Regions from separate parts of the Homo sapiens genome. Here region 2 is linked to region 1. Evidence: fine-mapped expression QTL. A gene starts in region 1. The other region holds a variant in brackets. All regions are shown on one strand. Distances are from middle to middle.

What was found.
Region 2: its variant is fine-mapped to the expression of TRIM5 in whole blood (INTERVAL, PIP above 0.99).

The regions. Positions count from the first base shown.
Region 1 is chr11:5,679,981-5,690,032 of GRCh38, forward strand. It overlaps TRIM5 (tripartite motif containing 5), which reads right to left and starts at 5,094. Exons shown (of 8, transcript NM_033034.3): 1 at 4,888-5,094; 2 at 1-258. The coding sequence starts at 197. It overlaps TRIM22 (tripartite motif containing 22), which reads left to right and starts at 9,810. Exons shown (of 8, transcript NM_006074.5): 1 at 9,810-9,919. RefSeq lists enhancers at 1-20, 4,852-5,101, 9,490-10,052, 9,604-9,943, 9,915-10,052.
Region 2 is chr11:5,657,551-5,667,602 of GRCh38, forward strand. TRIM5 (tripartite motif containing 5) reads right to left here. Exons shown (of 8, transcript NM_033034.3): 6 at 8,431-8,531; 7 at 8,106-8,132; 8 at 5,645-7,845. The coding sequence ends at 7,259. LOC107984302 (a long non-coding RNA gene) reads right to left here and starts at 3,282. Exons shown (of 2, transcript XR_001748100.1): 1 at 1,660-3,282. The variant G/A (reference allele first, on the strand shown) is at 4,787.

The DNA of each region.
Region 1 (10,052 bases):
TTCTCAGGCTGGTAACTGATCCGGCACACAGGGCAGCTACTCTCTCCTTTGTCTAGCATGGACTTCTTGTGGTTTGCAGTGAGGCATGCTTGGCAGAAGCTGTGGCCGCAGTCCAGGCTCAGGGGTTGTGTCAGGAGTTCCAGGCAGATGGGGCAGGTCACCTCCTCCTTTACATTAACCAGGATTCCAGAAGCCATAGTAGCTATTCCACTGCTCCTGCCTGTCCTGGCTGCTGAGGTTCCTCTTGTTCACAGATCCCTGCATGATTGGGAAGGTTAAAATGGGACCAAGTAAGAAAGGTAGAAATAGAAAGGATATTGATTGTGCACAATTAGAAAATGGGCAAGATGAAAATAATTAAGGACAAAAAAAGGGGAGAAATAAGAAAAGGTGTTTGGTTACCTGGTAATAAGGGCTTTTCATAATCACCTTAAATACTTTACTGCCAGTTCATGTCATATGACAAATTCTGTTCTTATCTGTGCATTGGTTATCATTTTTCTTTACTTTCAATGAATAGAAAACAGACTGAGGTCTTTTCTACCAAGATCTTTGTGTGACCCATCATCTCTCCTGGCTTTTCTTTCCCACGCCAAAACACATCCTCAGTATTAAAATCACCAAACAGCTTATGCCTCAGGGCTTTCACATTTGCTCTTCTCTCAGCATGAAATGTTTCTCTGATGTTAGTACGATTTTATTAAATTCTCTCCTTACATGTTATATTATCAAAAATACCTGCTCTGACTACCTTATGTGCAGTGTAACAAATCTCACCATGCACTGTACGTTTGCAATGATTGCTCTTATTATCAGCAGAGTGAATGACTGTTTCATCAAATGTATAAATAGACATAATAAGTGATTTACAAAAATTATTTATCTTCAGTATGGTGACCTGAGATGACCTCGTATTCAGGGTCCTCTTTCACTGGCCTCTTTGCTACTCTTTTGGTTAATCAATGACAAATGGAGATAACAGCATATATCCAATTAATACCCAGAGCAATTGGGGTGTGGAAGTAGAGGAATCCACAACAGCTGGGAGGTTCTGAGGAGTCTCATCCTGAAAGTTTGCCAAGGACATTTATTGGAGCCTAAAGGTGTAGACATGGTGTAGAGGGTGATGATAGAGAAATACTCAGTGGACCACACATGTTGGATACTTGAAAACTAGAAGCACAGAGGCAGTGGATATCAGTCTTGAGAGAGAAGTCTCAAAATATTAGATGAGATGATTCTGTTCCCGGAACAAACGGAGGGTCGGCTGCTGCTTCTTGCGGCCCAATAACGAGATGCAGATTTACTGGGAAAGAAGCGAATTTTTATTTCTGCGTACAGGGAGAAGGCCTAGAAAATATCTCCAGACCAACTCAAAATTACAAAGTTTTCCAGAGCTTATATACCTTCTAAGCTATACGTCTACGTATAGGTGTGCATTATTCATCTAAAAACATAAGTGATTAACTTCTTCAAATCTATAACTAAGGTCTGAGTTTTAAGACCTTCCTCTGGTGCCTCAGTAAATTTACCTAATCTAGATGGGTCCGGGTGCTGGGGTGATTACCCTTATCTTGTCTCTCCTGCTAAATCATTAAGGTTTGCGGAGTTCCTTCAGACCCTCAATAAACTTGTTTGTGGAGGCCTGGGAGTTCCTTCAGACCCCCATAAAACTTGTTTAATCCTAAACAGGTCCTAATCGATTCCTTCGTTATCTTGTCATGCTTCAAGGCCCAGGAAAGGCCTGGGCAAAACTCTCAGTGGGCTTCTGTTACATTCCAGCCTTTGTATAAGGGCACTGGCTCTATCAGCTTTTAATATTTTTTTTTCTTTTTTGAGACGGAGTCTTGCTCTGTCGCCCAGGCTGGAGTGCAATGGCACAATCTCGGCTCACCACAACCTCTGCCTCCCAGGTTCCAGTGACTCCTCTGCCCCAGCCTCCCGAGCAGCTGGGACCACAGGCACGCACCACCACACCCGGCTAATTTTTGTATTTTTGGTACAGATGGGGTTTCACCATATTGGCCAGTCTGGTCTCCAACTCCTGACCTTGTGATCCACCTGCCTCGGCCTCCTAAAGTGCTGGGATTACAGGCGTGAGCCACCGTGCCCGGCTTCAGCTTTTAATATTTAACTTAACCAGACGGGTGTGGTGGCTCACGCTTGTAATCCTAGTACTTTGGGAGGCCAAGGCAGGCGGATCACCTGAGGCTGGGAGTTCAAGACCAGCCTGGCCAACATGGTGAAATTCTGTCTCTACTAAAAATACAAAATGAGCTGAGCTTGGTGACAGGTGCCTGTAATCCCAGCTACTTGGGTATTCTTTCCACATGCTTCTCCTGCTCTTCGTATCTCACCTAAGCTCTGCTTTTGGGGGGCAGATACGGCCCACGGAGAGGGAGGAGCAAGGTTAATGATTTTTAAGAAAATCCAGTAGTTCCCTGAGTCTGGACTTGGTGCCCTAGTAGAGGCAAACAGATGCTGTCACCAGGGAAGCCCTGATGAAATGACTGGGAAAGTTATTTTTCTTAACGTTTTTCTTTATTCCCTTTATGTATAGACAAAGTTGCTTAAGAAGAAGCCAGACTGCCCAGCATGGTCCAGATCTTGACCCCTGACCAGATCCAAGGGGGAAATTAGACCCCCGAACCAGCGTATATACTGGAACTGACAATCCCTAATTGCCTTTAGATCATTAACATATCACTAGAGTGTTAAGTTACCCCCTCCCCCACACGACACCAAACAAGAAAATCTCCACCATTTTGTGTGCCTGGGTTGTATTGAGAGGTGACAGCATGCTGGCAGTCCTTGCAGCCCTCACTCGCTCTTGGCGCCTCCTCTGCCTGGGCTCCCACTTTGGCGGCACTTGAGGAGCTCTTCAGCCCACCGCTGCACTGTGGGAGCCCCTTTCTGGGCTGGCCAAGGCCGGAGCTGGCTCCCTCAGCTTGCAGGGAGGTGTGGAGGGAGAGGGGCGAGCGGGAACCGGGGCTGCGCGCCGCGCTTGTGGGCCAGCTGGAGTTCCGGGTGGGCGTGGGCTTGGTGGGCCCCGCACTCGGAGTGGCCGGCCGGCCCCGCTGCCCCGGGCAGTGAGCGGCTTAGCACCTGGGCCAGCAGCTGCTGTGCTCAATTTCTCGCCGGGCCTTAGCTGCCTCCCCGCGGGGCAGAGCTCAGGACCTGCAGCCCACCATGCCTGAGCCTCCCCACGACCCCTTGGGCTCCTGTGCTGCGCGAGCGTCCCTGACGAGCACCGCCCCCTGCTCCACGGCGCCCAGTCCCATCACCACCCAAGGGCTGAGGAGTGCAGGTGCGTGGCATGGCACAGGACTGGCAGGCAGCTCCACCTGCGGCCCGGTGCAGGATCCACTGCGTGAAGCCAGTGGGGTTCCTGAGTCTGGTGGGGACTTGCAGAACCTTTATGTTTAGCTAAGGGATTGTAAATGCACCAATCAGCACCCTGTGTCTAGCTCAGGGTTTGTGAATGCACCAATCGACACTCTATATCTAGCTACTCTGGTGGGGACTTGGAGAAACTTTATGTCTAGCGAAGGGATTGTAAATACACCAATCGGCACTCTGTATCTAGCTCAAGGTTTGTAAACACACCAATCAGCACCCTGTGTCTAGCTCGGGGTTTGTGAATGCACCAATCGACACTCTGTATCTAGCTACTCTGGTGGGGATGTGGAGAATCTTTGTGTCTACACTCTGTATCTAGCTAATCTAGTGGGGACTGGAGAACTTTTGTGTCTAGCTCAGGGATTGTAAATGCACCAATCAGTGCCCTGTCAAAACAGACCACTCGGCTCTCTGTAAAATGGACCAATCAGGAGGATGTGGGTGGGGCCAGATAAGAGAATAAAAGCAGGCTGCCTGAGCCAGCAGTGGCAACCTGCGCTGGTCCCCTTCCACACTATGGACGCTTTGTTATTTTCCTCTTTGCAATAAATCTTAATACTGCTCACTCTTTGGGTCCACACTGCCTTTATGAGCTGTAACACTCACCGCGAAGGTCTGCAGCTTCCCTCCTGAGCCAGCGAGACCACGAACCCACCAGAAAGAAGAAACTCTGAACACATCCGAACATCAGAAGGAAGAAACTCCGGACATGCCGCCTTTAAGAACTGTAACACTCACTGCAAGCGTCCGCGGCTTCATTCTTGAAGTCAGTGAGACCAAGAACCCACCAATTCCGGACACAGTATGAAGACATGTGTTTATAAACAGAGGTGGCACAACTGGAGTTCCACCCTATAGGCTAACACTCCTTTCTCTCCCCGTACTCAGTTCTTTTAAAGCCAATGCTTTCCACTGTTTTGGGGGAGGGGGCTTTAGAGAAGGAGCTCTCTTACTCTCCACTCCTAGCAAGAAATAAAACCTGCTTGCCTTTTTTCCCATTATCTTTGTAACCAATATGAACTAGGGAAAGAACTCCATTTACAGTGACAATGACAGGACTACAGAACTGGACAGCTGTCACACCATGAAGGCTGATGTCACAGAGCCAGGCCAAGGTGATGAGAACTGACCTGTAGAGTTATGCAGAAACACTACATTAGTAAACTAATAGGCATTAAATCATTAGGATTCCAAGGCCCCTGTCTTTGCCCTTGTTGTTGGGAGAAGACACTGAAAGAGAGAATTCTGGCTCTCTACAGCAAAGTTCAATTAAAAAGTATAGAGTAGGGAGGGGATGGGGAGAGAGTCAGCATGGAAAAATAACCAGCCTTCGGGAAACAAAGCCCTTCACTTTAAAGCTCTCCCTTCTTTCAAATCTGCCTGCCCGCCAGGCGGCTCTGTTCCCCTCAGTCAGCTCTGGCAGCAAGAAGTCTGTGAACTGTGTCTTTTCCCCACCCCCGCACAGCTTTTCAGATAAGTTAAACTCACCAAGGTAAATACAGTTTTGTCCCAAAGACTTCCTACTTCTGCCCTCCACAAAATCACTCAATACACCTTCAGACACCAGTGCAGAAGTGGTGATTCTGGGGAGAAGAGTGAAGACAGGCCAGGGAAGACGTGGTTAGGATTCACTCACCAATCCACGGGCCTGATCTGCACAAAGGAATTTTCCTAGAGGAACCGCAGGAAATTCTTGCTCACACTCAGGGCAGGAAAGTGAAAGATAAACTATGGGCCAATGGCATTTCTCCACGTAGGGCCTGGTGAGTCCCGCCCTCTGAATGAATCAGCCGGGCCGTGTAGCTGTGCTGTTCACAGGAGGAGCCGTGGGAACTAGAGGCATTCCCACTCAATCTCCCTTTTCTCTTGAGTCTCAGGATCTTGTTATCATGCCACTTCTTCTGACATAGTTTCAGATTAACCCAGCCAAGTATTAAAAATTAGAAAAGGTGCCCTTTTTCGAAATTCTTCCAATGTGCTCCTCTTGCTCCTGATCTCACAGCTGAGTTCTGCTTCTGGGTGACAGATATGGCCCAAAGAGAAGGAAGAACAAAGTTAATGATTTTTAGAGAATTGCAGTAGATTTCTGGTCTGGACTTAAAAATCTTATAGGACCTATGAACAGAAAAGGAGCTGCAGGTAGGAGAGATGTCATATTATTAAGACTCCGAAACCCAGAGAGGACAGGATGCTAGAAATTTATCTGGAGAGGGCCGGGCGCGGTGGCTCACGCCTGTAATGCCAGCACTTTGGGAGGCTGAGGCGGGCGGATCACAACGTCAGGAGATCGAGACCATCCTGGCTAACACGGTGAAAACCCATCTCTAATAAAATAAAATAAAATAAAATAAAATAAAAAATTAGCCGGGCATGGTGGCGGGTGCCTGTGGTCCCAGCTATTCCGGAGGCTGAGGCAGCAAAATGGCGTGAACCCGGGAGGCGGAGCTTGCAGTGAGCAGAGATCGCGCCACTGCACTCCAGCCTGGGCGACAGAGTGAGACTCCGTCTCAAAAAAAAAAAAAAAAAAAAAAAAAAAAAGAAGTTTATCTGGAGAGCGATAAAGAAATACCACATTATTTCTTTCAACTATTCACTTTCAAAGAACTCTCCAACTTCCCGCTGTTGTCTTTTCCAAAGTATCTATTGCATCCCTGAGCAGGGCCAGGCCTTCCTCTCTCTTCTCTTCTGGTTACTATGCAAAACTGGTCCAAAAGGCTGAACTGTGGTCCATGTACCATAGCCTCCCTTCTAAGCTTTCCCTTACTGGAACATCTCAGGAAGTCCACACTGGAACTAGGATCATTGGTAGAGAGGAGTATTTAGTTTGAAAATGAAAATGCCTCAGGAGAAGGCAATGGGGAGCACTGCAGTGGGCAGCCTGTTATCACTTAATTCCATCATCAGTAACCTCATACCCCCTCCACACTGTACCCCCGCAGCTTTCTGTTTCATGAAATCAGGTAGGGGGCTTTTGCATTTTGTTCTTTATTGTCTCAGATTTACTAGAATATGGTGTATATAAGGAGTAATATTTAAATAGATATGAAGATATATAGCTATTAATCTAATTTTAATTGAATATCTTGATGTCACATTTCTGTTCTATTCTTGCTGTAAAGATAACTGCTGTGTCACCTAGTTTAATTCAAATATTCTTCTGGCATTAGTAATAATTATGTGGCAGTAATAATTATAGTAATAATTATAATAATTAGTATTATTAATAATTACAATTATTAATAGTTACAATTATAATTAATATTACTAATTGTTATTTAGTAATAATTATGTGGCATTAGTAATAATTATGTAATGATTACATTTGCAGTGGCTCACACCTGTAATCCTCGCACTTCGGGAGACCAAGGCGGGTGGATCACTTGAGGTCAGGAATTTGAGACCAGCCTGACCAACATGGTGAAACCTCATCTCTACGAAAAATACAAAAATTAGCCAGGTGTAATGGCAGATGCCTGTAATCCCAGCTACTCAGGAGGGTGAGGAAGGAGAATTGCGTGAACCCGGGAGGTGGAGGTTGAAGTGAGCCGAGATCATGCCACTGCACTCCAGCCTGGGCAATAGAGTGAGACTCTGTCTCAAAAAAAAAAAAAAAAAAAAAAAAAAAAAAAAAAAAAAAAAGTAATTATGTAAATTTTTAAACAAATTTTAAACGATTTTTTAAAATATCCTCTCTGTTTTCTTCCTAAGTATTATTCAGACTCTAACCATATTTACTCTTATTTTGCTCTTTTTCTTGAAGAGAAAAATGTTAAATATCCATGGACCCAAAGGTAGAGATATTTCATTTGATTCCTTTTCAAGCAGGAAAGCAGGATATATAAGGTTTACAGGCTGGGCGCGGTGGCTCACGCCTGTAATCCCAGCACTTTGGGAGGCCAAGGTGGGTGGATCATGAGGTCAGGAGATTGAGACCATCCTGGCTAACAAGGTGAAACCCCGTCTCTACTAAAAATACAAAAAATTAGCCAGGCGCGGTGGCGGGCGCCTGTAGTCCCAGCTACTCGGGAGGCTGAGGCAGGAGAATGGCGTGAACCCGGGAAGCGGAGCTTGCAGTGAGCCGAGATCGCACCACTGCAGTCCGCAGTCCGGCCTGGGCGACAGAGCGAGACTCCGTCTCAAAAAAAAAAAAAAAAAAAAGGGTTTACAGAGAAAACACAGAGCTCCAACAATAATATATTTTTTCTACAATTTAGAACATAGGTTAGAATATGGAGCCTGCCAACATGCTCTACTCTGGTGATAAACTGTGTGTGGTGCATTCAGTTTTTCTATTGGCCCACGTTTTCTGGTATCTTGTCAGGACCTAATATTACTACTGTTTTCTCTCAGCTGCAATTAATACTTCATGAGATAAATCAGACCAGGATGAAAGTTCACTTCAGATGTTCAAAGCCAGACGAGAATAAAAGGATGGCTATGAGATCTATGGAAGTGCTGAGAAGGGAAGAAATAATGGACAGAGAACAGGTCTCTGGATAAATGAGTTCATTCACTTTGTCCATTGTGGTTGACACTCGGACTCCACTCTGTGCACTCCAGAAAAAACACATTCACTCACTGAGCGCTCACTCCCCTACAAATGTCAACAAGATATTCTATTCAAACATGGAATATACCTAAAATTACATCTCTTGCTTATTTATCTTCAAGAAGAAATAAGAAAATTTCACGCCTGTCTTAGTCAAGGTTCATCATAGCAATAGAACCACTAAACTATGAATTTATTTGGAAAGAAACTTGAGAAATGTCTCAGGTGATTCTGGAGACTGGCAAATCCAAAGTCTGCAAGGTAGGCCAAGAGGCTCTGGATCCAAGAAGGAGTCAACGTTATAGCTCACGCCTGAGGTTTGCCTGCTGGTAATATTCCCTCTTCTCGGGGAGAAGTCAGTTTTTTCTTCTATTCTGGCTTTCAGCTGATTGAATAAGGTCCTCATAGATATAAGTGAGTAGGAAAGAATTTATAGCCAGGATTAGCTTATTATTCTGTGAGCAACAAATAATACCAAAATATCTATTATTGAAATAATAAACATTGATTTCTCAGTCATCCTACATGTGTATCATTGATTAAAGTATGAAGATGGCCATGCTCCATAGTGTCAGTCAGGGATCCATGTTATGGAAGCTCCATGAGTTGCCTTTTTTTTTCTTTTTTTTTGGGTGTGTGTGTGTATGTGTTGTGTGGTGTTTGTTTGTTTGTTTTTTGTAGAGACAGGGTCTTACTATGTCACCCAGGCTGCAGTGCTATGGTGCAATGACGCAATCTTGGCTCAATGCAACCTCCACCTCCTGGGCTCAAGCCATCCTCCCATCTCAGTTTCCTGAGTAGCTGGGACTACAGGTGCACATCACCACACCCAGCTATTTTTTTTTTTTTAATTTTTCTTAGAGATGGGATTTCACCATGTTGCCCAGGCTGGTGTTGAAGTCCTGGACTCAAGTGATCCACCCACCTGGGCCTCCCAGAGTGCTGGGATTACAGGCATGAGACACCACAGGCCTCCATCAGTTTTTGATGGCATTATCTGGCACATGCAGTTAAACAAGAATACAATAGACAACAGGGTACAGAAGTATGTGCATGACGTATAACATGTTTCAGTGCTGCTTTTTAATTGATTGTGTAAAAATGACCAAACTTTTCTTAGAGAAGCAGGGAAAAGTGGAAAAATTATGAAGGCATGAGAGTAACTCAATGAATGATTATAATTAAACAGCATCATCTGTTAACTTCCATGTTCTCACCTGCCTCAGTGGCTGGGTAACATGACACTGACACAGTTTTACCTCTATTACTCTCTGGAATCCATCCTCATCTGGTCTGTCTGGATTAGGAGCAGGAAGTGATAATTAATTGATGGACTCTTAAGATTTAATGACATTTTGAGAACATTTTTTTCAATGGGCTCACACTAAAGATCCTTTTATTTATAAAAATAATTTTTTTACCATTCACAATGTCAGCTGCTAATACTCATCTTGTCAGCCCAAATTTGTAGAGCTTTATAACTGAGTATCTTCCTCGTCAGACTGCATTTCAAGAAGCTAGGTCCCAAGTCTCTGGATCTTTATTTTCCTGGCTTAGGTCTTAAATATAAGATAAATTCGACTAATAATTATAGGACTGCATTGGAATTCTAAGTATTCAGGCAAGCTGTATAACTGTAATTCACATTCTTTTTATTCAAATATTCTTGCTTGAGTAAACCACAGTAAGAATAAGGAAGTAGTGACTGAGTGCCTTGCCAGTACAGCAGATGCTAGAACATAATGTAGCATTACTTTCCCCAGGGTTTATTGTTATGTAAGTTCTTGTTCAGCTTCCTTTGTTTTCTTTCACTTCTGAGAATTTAACTTTCGTTTCTCACTCAGCTCCTGTGGGGAAACTCATTTGTGGAGACCAGCCCTCTGGCTTGGTGAGTGAATCTGGTTTACACCGGCTCCTGCCCTGCCTTCACTCTTCTCCCCTGATTCAAGACTCCTCTGCTTTGGACTGAAGGTGAGTGGAGCAATCTGTGGGAGCATAGAATGGGAGGCTTTGAGAAGAATAGATTGATTGTGTCTGGGTGAGTTTAATTTGTAGTTCTGAAGCTGCTCTGCATAAACAAAAAGAGGCAGCTTGTGAACTGTCT
Region 2 (10,052 bases), 22 kb before region 1:
ATGCATTTATATATATTATTTATATATTATATATAATGCATTATATATAATATATATTTATATATTATATATAATGCATTATATATATTATTTATATATTATATATAATATATATTTATAATATAATATATATATATTTATAATATAATATATATAAATATATATATATATTATATTGTATTATATTCTGGAATAGCTGGGACTACAGGCCTGCACCACCATGCCCGGCAAATTTTTGTAGTTTTAGTAGAGACAGAGTTTCACCATGTTGGCCAGGCTGGTCTCTAACTCCTGACCTCAAGTGATCTGAGAGCCTCGGCCTCCCAAAGTGCTGGGATTACAGGCCTGAGCCACCATGTCTGGCAAAATCCTTTTATTTAGAAAAATAAGTTTATTTTTCCCATTCAGAATGACAGCTGCTAATTATATGAGAGGGGTGCAGGGAAGTGCTGAAAAGAGAAAGGCACGGTCCCTGACAAAGCCTCCACTCCTGGGGCCTGGGCCCACAGACTTAGGTGAGGACAGGAATTTCCGTTTTTGTGCCCAAATGTTGCATTTTCCAAGATCACCCTGGCCTGCTATGCCCCCATCCTGTGCCTATAGCAGGAAGAGACACAAGCAACTGAATGTTAAGAGTAGCAAATTGGTAGAAGAACACACCAACAGGCACCAGCACATGCTGGAAGGCCAGCGACCAATGGACCGATGCAGAGATTGGTCGGGGATGTCAGAGGACAGCCTGGCTGCTGGGTGGCCCAACTCCAGGGAAATCCACCTTCCTACTCCATCTTCCTTCTGGCCTCTTCATCCACCTCGCTGAGAGCTACTACCACTCGATAAAAAACCTTGCACTCGTTCTCCAAGCCCACGTGTGATCCAATTTTTCTGATACGTTAAGGCAAGAACCTGGGATACAGAAAGCCCTCTGTCCTTGCAATAAGGCAGAGGGTCAGAGCAGATAAACACAAGCCACCTGCAGGCAGCAAAGAGGAAACTCCTCCAATACTGTTATATTTTTCTAAGTGTCTATTACCCTGAATATTCTGACTGCTTTTGTCACTTTCTAGTGCCTTCAGGTTTACTTGATTTTCACATTTTGTGCAAGGTTTCTAATGTTGATCTATGGGTGAGGACATGAAGTTTTGTTAGAAAGAGTACAGTGTGTGCATGTGTCTTTATAGCAGCATGATTTATAATCCTTTGGGCACATACCCAGTAATGGGATCGCTGGGTCAAATGTGGCACTATACACCATGGAATACTATGCAGCTACAAAAAAGGATGAGTTCATGTCCTTTGCAGGGACATGGATGAAGCTGGAAACCATCATTCTCAGCAAACTATCACAAGGACAGAAAACCAAACACCGCATGTTCTCACTTGTAGGTGGGAATTGAACAATGAGAACACTTGGACACAGGGCGGGGAACATCACACACTGAGGCCTGTGGTAGGGTGGGCGCCTGGGGGAGGGATAGTATTAGGAGAAATACCTAATGTAAATGACGAGTTAATGGGTGCACCAAACCAACACGGCACATGTATACATATGTAACAAACCTGCACATTGTGCACATGTACCCTAGAACTTAAAGTATAAAAAAAAAGAGTACAGTGTAACACATGTCCGCGGGGCCCACAGGAGCTGTAAACACTCACCCCTAGAGGTTGCTGTGGGGTTAGAGCCCCACAGCCTGCCCGTCTGCATTCTCCCCTAGAGCTTTGAGCAGCAGGGCACTGAAGCGAGCCATTCCCCCTGTCGCATGCCCTGCAAAGGGAACAAGGGAACTTTTCTCATTTCACTAATAACTCATTTTGTCAGCCCAAATTTGCAGAGCTTTATAACTCAGTGTCTTCCCCATCAGATTGCATTTCAAGATGCTAGGTGTCAAGTTGTTCTGGGTCATTATTCTACATGCTTAGAGCTTAGGTATAAGATAACTTCAACTAATAATTATAGAATTGCATGGAAATTCTAAGTACTCAGGTAAAGCACTGTATATTCAAAGCTGTAGAATGTATAACTGTAATTCATATTCTTTTAATTCAAATATTCTTGCTGTAGTAAACTGCACTAAGAATAAAACTGTAGTGACTGAGTGCCTAGATGGTACAGACCATAGAACATACTGAAACATTACCATCCCCAGGTTTTATTGTTTTGTAAGCTCCTGTTCTGGATTCTGTATAATTCTCTGAAGCCTTTTTTTTTTTTCAGGTAGTTAATTTGATTGAAATTAAATTCTTAATTTTTCCCTGCTACATACAGCAGCTGAAATCTTTAGCCTATTTTGGGCTGCTTCACATCTGTCTCAAACATGTACTTTAGAGACTTGACTAGAGTTTATACAATTTGGTATTTATTCCTCTATATCTCTTCTTTACGGGTACTCTACCATCATTTTCTAGTTGCTATGGCAGGCACAAATCATTCTTTTTTTTTTGAAACGGAGTCTCGCTCTGTCGCCCAGGCTGACGTGCAGTGGCGAGATCTCGGCTCACTGCAACCTCTGCCTCCTGGGTTCAAGCGATTCTCCTGCCTCAGCCTCCTGAGTAGCTGGGACTACAGGCGCCCACCACCATGCCCGGCTAATTTTTGTGTTTTTAGTAGAGACGGGGTTTCACCATATTGGCCTAGCTGGTCTCGAAATCCTGATCTTGTGATCTGCCCACCTCAGCCTCCCAAAGTGCTGGGATTACAAGCGTAAGCCACTGCGTCCGGCTCATTCTTGTTTTTCAAAGCAGCAAGTACATATATTGTTAACTGAGTTTTTAGTGTTCTACCCAGTAACAACTGAGGTCTGCCTTCAAGTGAAAAGCCACAGAAACAGGAAACTCCCCCAATACTGTTGTCTTTTTCTAAGTGTCTATTACCCTGAATATTCTGATTGCTTGTCACTTTCTAGTGCCTTCAGGTTTGATTTTTACATTTTGTCCAAGGTTTCTAATGTTGGATCTGTGGGTGAGGGCATGCAGTTTTATTAGAATATATACCTTCATTAATGGAAATAGAACCTCAGTTTTGCTCACTCTAGACAATCTTTAACTATATGTTAAATTGATTGATTTTACGCTTTCTTTCTCTACCAAACTGCCGGATTTTTTTTTCAGTGTGGTTGTAATGTTTTGCACTGCCACATAATTCAGAAAGAAAATAATGGTGGTGTTGGAGTATGGTGGTTAATACAAAGATATTATTAAGTTTAGATAGGCCGGGCGCAGTGGCTCACGCCTGTAATCCCAGCACTTTCGGAGGCCGAGGCGGGCGGATCTTGAGGTCAGGAGATCGGGACCATCCTGGCTAACACGGTGAAACCCTGACTCTACTAAAAATACCAAAAATTAGCTGGGCATGGTGGCAGGTGCCTGTAGTGCCAGCTACTCGGGAGACTGAGGCAGGAGAATGGCGTGAACCCAGGAGGTGGAGGTTGCAGTGAGCCGAAATCGCGCCACTGCACTCCAGCCTGGGCGACAGAGAGAGACTCCGTCTCAAAAAAAAAAAAAAAAAAAAAAAAAAAAAAAAAAAAAAAAAAAAAAAAGATTAGATATATGTTTAGGCATATTATGAGATTTAACTTATGTATCTTATTGATACTGAATAGGATCAAGGAGCTCAGAACATAATTGTTACCTTGTGACAAGTATAGCATCAAGAAGGAGTATTGGTTGCAATGTCCAAAGAAAAAAACCAAAGAGATCTCTTTTCCAAAGAGCTCTCCTCTGCCCGATGCTTATTCCATCCCATCCCTCCAACACATCATATAAACGTTCTTTTACTTTTCTCTCCCTTTGAATCTTAGAATTGGCTCTTCATCAGGGCACCTTCTCTTTAGCCCCTACGAACTCTCATTCTGCTTCTTCGTATTCTTTGTCCTCCCACTGGTTTCTGCTTGAGGCCTGCTCCCATTCTTTACTCAGTGTCCTGCAGAACAGTCTTCAAGCAATCCCTGTTTTTTTTCACAACCTCTTTTCTCTGTGCTTCTCCCCAGATTGTACCAAAATTCTAGCCAGATATGCCTAATTAATGGCCCAGCATAGATCTGAAGTCTCAGAATAGAAGACGACATAATTGTTACTCAGAGGTTCAGAAGTGATGGGGAGGGAACATCCTAGAACTGATACACAGGCAGAGAGAAAATCCACAGTTGACGTCCATTAGCCTTTTGGAGCACAGGTTGCCTTCTTCAGCCTTTTACTGAGAAGACGGAGTGTAACTCAGAGCAATTCATAAGCTTCATATTCTTTTCAGCTGAGAGGTTCATTACTAGGGCCAGGAGCATCTGTTTGAAAAAATCCTTCAGTGTGCAGATCTTTTCTGTTGTATATACAAATTCAGGTCTTTATTGTTGTGTAACTGGGTACTTCATCCTGAGCTGTGGGACTTGGCTTTCCAGGAAATGAAAAGGCATTAATGTCCCTGGAGAGTCACTTGCCAATAATTCAAGCTAGTCCAGACTGTTCCCAGTGAGTGAAAGCCTCAATCTTCATAGCATTGGGTGACAGGAAAGCAGAGGTAAAAGGGAAAATTTATAGCATCAACCTCCTCGGTTTCCCTGGATGGTGCTGAGGTAGAGAGGTGTGTGCACACACATAGTTACTGAAAATATTCACCTTGGAATCCCTTCTCTGACTAAAGTTACCACAAAGATAGAGACCTTAAAATTTCTGTGGGGAAGCAGGGTGAAGAGCAGAGACTATTTGATGAGGTAGACCATTAAAACAAAACAAAAAACTTCAGCTCAAAACTTGGGAAAGAGTTGGAAATAAAAATGCCAATAGACATAGG[G/A]ATCCTACCATGCCCTTCATAAACATCCGTTGCAAAAATAATTCTCCTCACTGAACAAGGAGAACAAGTATTTTTTTGTCATTTATGAAAATTACCATGCCTTTGTTACTTTAATGAAGAGTCAGGCTAACCTGGGCTCACAATTCACTTATCGATACCATTGTTGAGAAATGCCACATGTACTTCTGACTTTATCTGCATCACTGTGCAAAATACGTTTTTACTACTTGGCAAACAGGAAAAATTTACAATGAAATTAGAGTACTCAGAAATACTTAAAACAACTTAAGACTAGGCAGCTATGAAATTAAGAACAAAGATTTTTTTTCCCATTTATAAACACTTATTTTAAAACTTTCTACAAGAAAAATCTGTGATTTTTAACTTAGTTCTTGTATTTCTTCAAACGAAGGGAGAAAGATAATTTTGAAAAGAACTATTACATATTGTTAAAAATTATTGCTTTCAGTCACAGTGAGAGGGAACCAAAAATTAATAGACACCATAATGAGGCCGGGCATGGTGGCTCACACCTATAATCCTAGCACTTTGGGAGGTAAAGTGGGCAGATCGCCTGAGCCCAGGGCTTCGGGATCCGCCTGGGCAACATAGTGAAACCCTGTCTCTACCAAAAATACAAAAAATAACCAGGGCGTGGTGGTGCGTGACTGTAGTCCCAGCTACTCAGGAGGCTGAGGTGGAAGGATGAACCCTGGAGATGGAGGTTGCAGTGAGCCGAGATCGTGCCATTGCACTCCAGCTTGGGTGACAGAGACAAACCCTGTCTCAAAACAAACAAACAAACAAACAAACAAACAAACAAAAAAGCCCAACACCATAATGGATTACCCCTTACATGCTAGAAATGAGTGAAGCTATTCAAAAAACTCGTTTAACTTTTAAAAAACTACATCAGCTAATTTTATTATAATTATTTTTTACAATTAATAAACTGATTCCCACATAATTCAGTTTGTTTGATAAAGACTAATATGTAGCAACACTAGAATTACAATAAAATCCTAAATATATGTGTGTATTATATATAGAAGGCAGAATTGAAGTCATTTTGACAGTAGTATCTGAGATCTAAAAAATGAGAATTTAGTAAATCCAATCCTAGTTTCCCTGAAGGCACAACCTGTTCCATGAGACATTAACAGAGTTTATGTTTTTCAATAATTTGTAGAACAAGTACTTATTAGATCAAGACACTTAGATAGATGCTTTATACTTCAGGAATTTATTTTTTCACAATGATCCAAAGTATTAGATGAAGGTTTTTTGTTTTATTTTGCTTTTAATTGACAAATAATAAATATACATATTTATGTGGTACAGTGTGATGTTTTGATACATGTATACATTGCGTAATAACCGAACCAGGGTAATTAGCATATCCATCACCTCAAATATGTGTCATTTCTTTGTGTTGAGAACTTTCAAAATCCTCTCTTCTAGCTATTTCAAAATATATGCAATAGGTTATTGTTAACTCTAGTCACCCTACTATGCAATAAAACATTAGCACTTATTTAATGTGAAGTTTTTAATACAAAAATTATTTTAAGAAAATAAGCACAGGCTGGGCGCCGTGGCTCACGCCTGTAATCCCAGCACTTTGGGAGGCCGAGGCGGGTGGATCACCTGAGGTCAGAGGTTCTAGACGAGCCTAACCAACATGGGGAAACCCCGTCTCTACTGAAAATACAAATTTAGCCAGGGGTGGTGGTGGGCACCTGTAATCCCAGCTACTTGGGAGGCTGAGGCAGGAGAATTGCTTGAATCTGAGAGGTGGAGGTTGCAGTGAACCGAGATCGTGCCATTGCACTCCAGCCTGGGGAACAAGAGCAAAACTTCATCTCAAAAAAAAAAAAAAAGAAAAAAGAAAAGAAAAGGAAATAAGCACAGCCATTTAAGTATGTTATTCACAGTTACACTGCTGGTATATGGAGAGACAGGAGTTGAACTGAGATCCTCTAGATACAAAACCTCTATACTTAAGAGTATACCATTTATGATATTTTCTCTTTAACTCACAAATAAGGGCATCGAGGGTAAACTGACACAGGGCTAAGGACTCATTCATTGGTGAACAATTATCACACGATGATATAGAAAGGCTGTTGAAAAGCTTTTCTTCATCTTCTTAGTCAGTGTCAGAGGCAATTGGGTGATAAATATCTGGCAGAAGTAATACCTAAATAGCGGTCTCATTTTATGAGGTATAGGTCAGTTTTCCTTAGGAGTACGGAAAATGATGAAAAAAATTGCTATCAAATGTCAATAAAATATTGGGGACAATATGGCACAAGGCAATTATTACATTTTACTGATGAGTGAAGGACGTTCAAATAGAAAGAAGGGAGACAGCAAGGAAAAGATGGTTAAAATGATGCAAATGAGTTCAGGTGTATGAGATGCACCTGGACAAGAGGTGCTGTACAGAAGGGGCTGAGTGTGTAAGAAGGTTCAAGAGCTTGGTGAGCACAGAGTCATGGGGACTCCACATTTTCTAGGATTTAAATATGGAAATACAGGCTGAGAAAAAGAACAGTGAGAAAACTTATAGATGAGAAATCCATGGTTTGTGATATTGAAGAATGAGACAGTGCAAGCCTCATAGTCTAGGAAAACTCCAACACGATCAGGACAAATAATCACAGAGAGGGGCACAATGAAAGGAACAGAAGGAGTATGGAAGGAACTATCCTGGAAAGCACTACATTTAACTCCTTCCTCTAACCCTATAACCCAGTAGCCGTATTTAGGTTGATAATTTTCATTTTTTTCAATATTACACATTGCATCAGGTTGGAAGCCAGCACATACCCCCAGGATCCAAGCAGTTTTCTTGGACACGTCTACCTCCCAGTAATGTTTCCCTGATGTGATACTTTGAGAGCCCAGGATGCCAGTACAATAATTGAAATTCACAAATGTCTGGTATCTTGTCCCTCGTGCCCCATATATTATCTGTGGTTTCGGAGAGCTCACTTGTCTCTTATCTTCAGAAATGACAGCACATGAAATGTTGTTTGGAGCCACTGTCACATCAACTGTAGAAAAATTAACAGGTCAGCTAAGGGATATAATGTAACTTTATTTGTGATATGAGAGAAATCTTGATAAAGACTTGAGAGAAAACTGGGAGGAACCTTGTTTAGAAGTTATAAGGAGGGGTAAGTTATGTGTGTCTTGGAAGGAGAATCATAAATCTTAAAACATGAGCCTAATAGAGAACATAAAATTCTAAAAGATAAAGATAATAATAATGATAAGCCGCAGGGTGGCTTATGATAATGTGACTTCTCCTTACCCCAGTAGCGTCGGACATCTGTCAGCTCTGAAATGATAAAAATGCACAATATTGAATACAAACAAAGGAGTCAGCACTGAAATTCATTTTCTCTCCAGATTAGGGAAAGAGTAGGTATGCCCTATGGTAGGGCAGTAAATTGCTGAATGATGAGATGAAACAGCCACCTAGCCATTTCCCATTAAATATAATCCCATCAGCAGCAGACAATATCTATCCTCCCCTATCCCCTCTATCCATATTTGGAAACTGCACCCTCTTCCCTATTTAGCACCCTAACACCACTTGAATTCCATAACCCTGTTGTTGATCTAGCTCTCCTCACCTCTAAACACTTCTAGCATTCCTTTCAGATCAGGAGCTCGAAACACTCTCCTTTGATTTTTTGGAAAAGTTTCTGGCTTCTTCAAGGTCACGTTCTCCGTCCTAAGAATTAAAAAAAAAAAAAAAAACTTCCAAACCTTTGACCTTGTGTCCGTGGAACACCCCTGACTTCCTATCATTTCAACCCATTGAGGCACTTGAACTCTCTTCTTGGGGATCCTGAGAAGGGAGAGTGCAAACTCTTGACCCTGGAGGCAAACAAAATGTTCTCATGTTTGCCTTCCCACTTACTTTCTGTGAGAACGTGGGAAGATCTTAACCTCTCAGAAGCACAGTTTCTTCCTTCTAAAATGAAATAATTAACCTCTCCCTGTCTACATTCTTAAACTCATAGGACATAAAAAAAAAAAAAAGGATTTTAAAACAAAACAAAACAAAACTTTGGTGCCTTACAAAAGAAACCCTAACATTTAATGGGTGGAAACATCATCGCTATGTATGTTGAGTTCCCAGGGAGATGGTTAGAAAGTGAGGTTGCAGAACCTGGCTCCTGGGTGTTTGACACATATCAAGAGAGGAATCCTGTTTGGAGAGGCCTAAGACCTTCAAAGCTATTCCCAGCAGGGAGGTACTCAGATAACATCTAAGGTTTCAGATTTCCGGGAAAAATTACAAACACTTGGCAAATGAGAAATTATGTGCACTAAACTATTACTGGCCTGAATATCGTGTGGTTAGAAAGAACTTGATACCACCACGTAGGTGTGCGAGGTGTGCGATTTTAGACACAAGAATAGCACCTTTTTATGCTCTTGTAAAGAATGCAACTGAGGTGGATCAATTCTTTGTACCATGACCACATATTATCCAGAATATTATTTTGAAATATTATTCCGGAAATAAACATCTGATTTTGGAAATCTAAATATAAATGAAGAGGAACTGGTCTTTTTCCAGGAGGAAAATATAAACATGTGGGAATTGTCCCAATGGACAATTAGGGGTATATAAGAGAAAAAGAAGATATGGCCCATCCAAAATAAATCAAGAACCTATTAAATACAGAAAGAGAACTAGATGTAGGTAATAAAATGGTGATGGCGCAGGGGTCCAACACTGCAACACCTTCTCCCTGAAACCACTACTGACCCACACTCCGAGTCTCCACCACCCAAATTTTCTACCATAGAATCTGGTCTATTCCTTTTCTTTTTTTTAATTTTATTTAATTTTATTGATTTTTCTAAGACAGAGTCTCACTTTGTCGCCCAGACTGGAGTGCAGTGGCATGGTCTTGGCTCACTGCAACCTCTGCCTCCTGGATTCAAGCAATTCTCCTGCCTCAGCCTCCCGAATAGCTGGGATTACAGGCACGGGCCACCACGCCCCCCTAATTTTTGTATTTTTTTGATAGAGACAGGGTTTTGCCACGTTGGCCAGGCTAGTCTCAAACTCCTGATCTTCCTGACTCGGCGTCCCAAAGTGCTGGGATTATAGGCTTGAGCCACCACACCTGGCCAAATCTGGTCTATTCTTAATAGTTATAGAACATTCGAATGCTGATTTATGACCAGAAATTTATGATAAAACAATATCGAAATTTTTCTGCCCTGGGAGATGTTT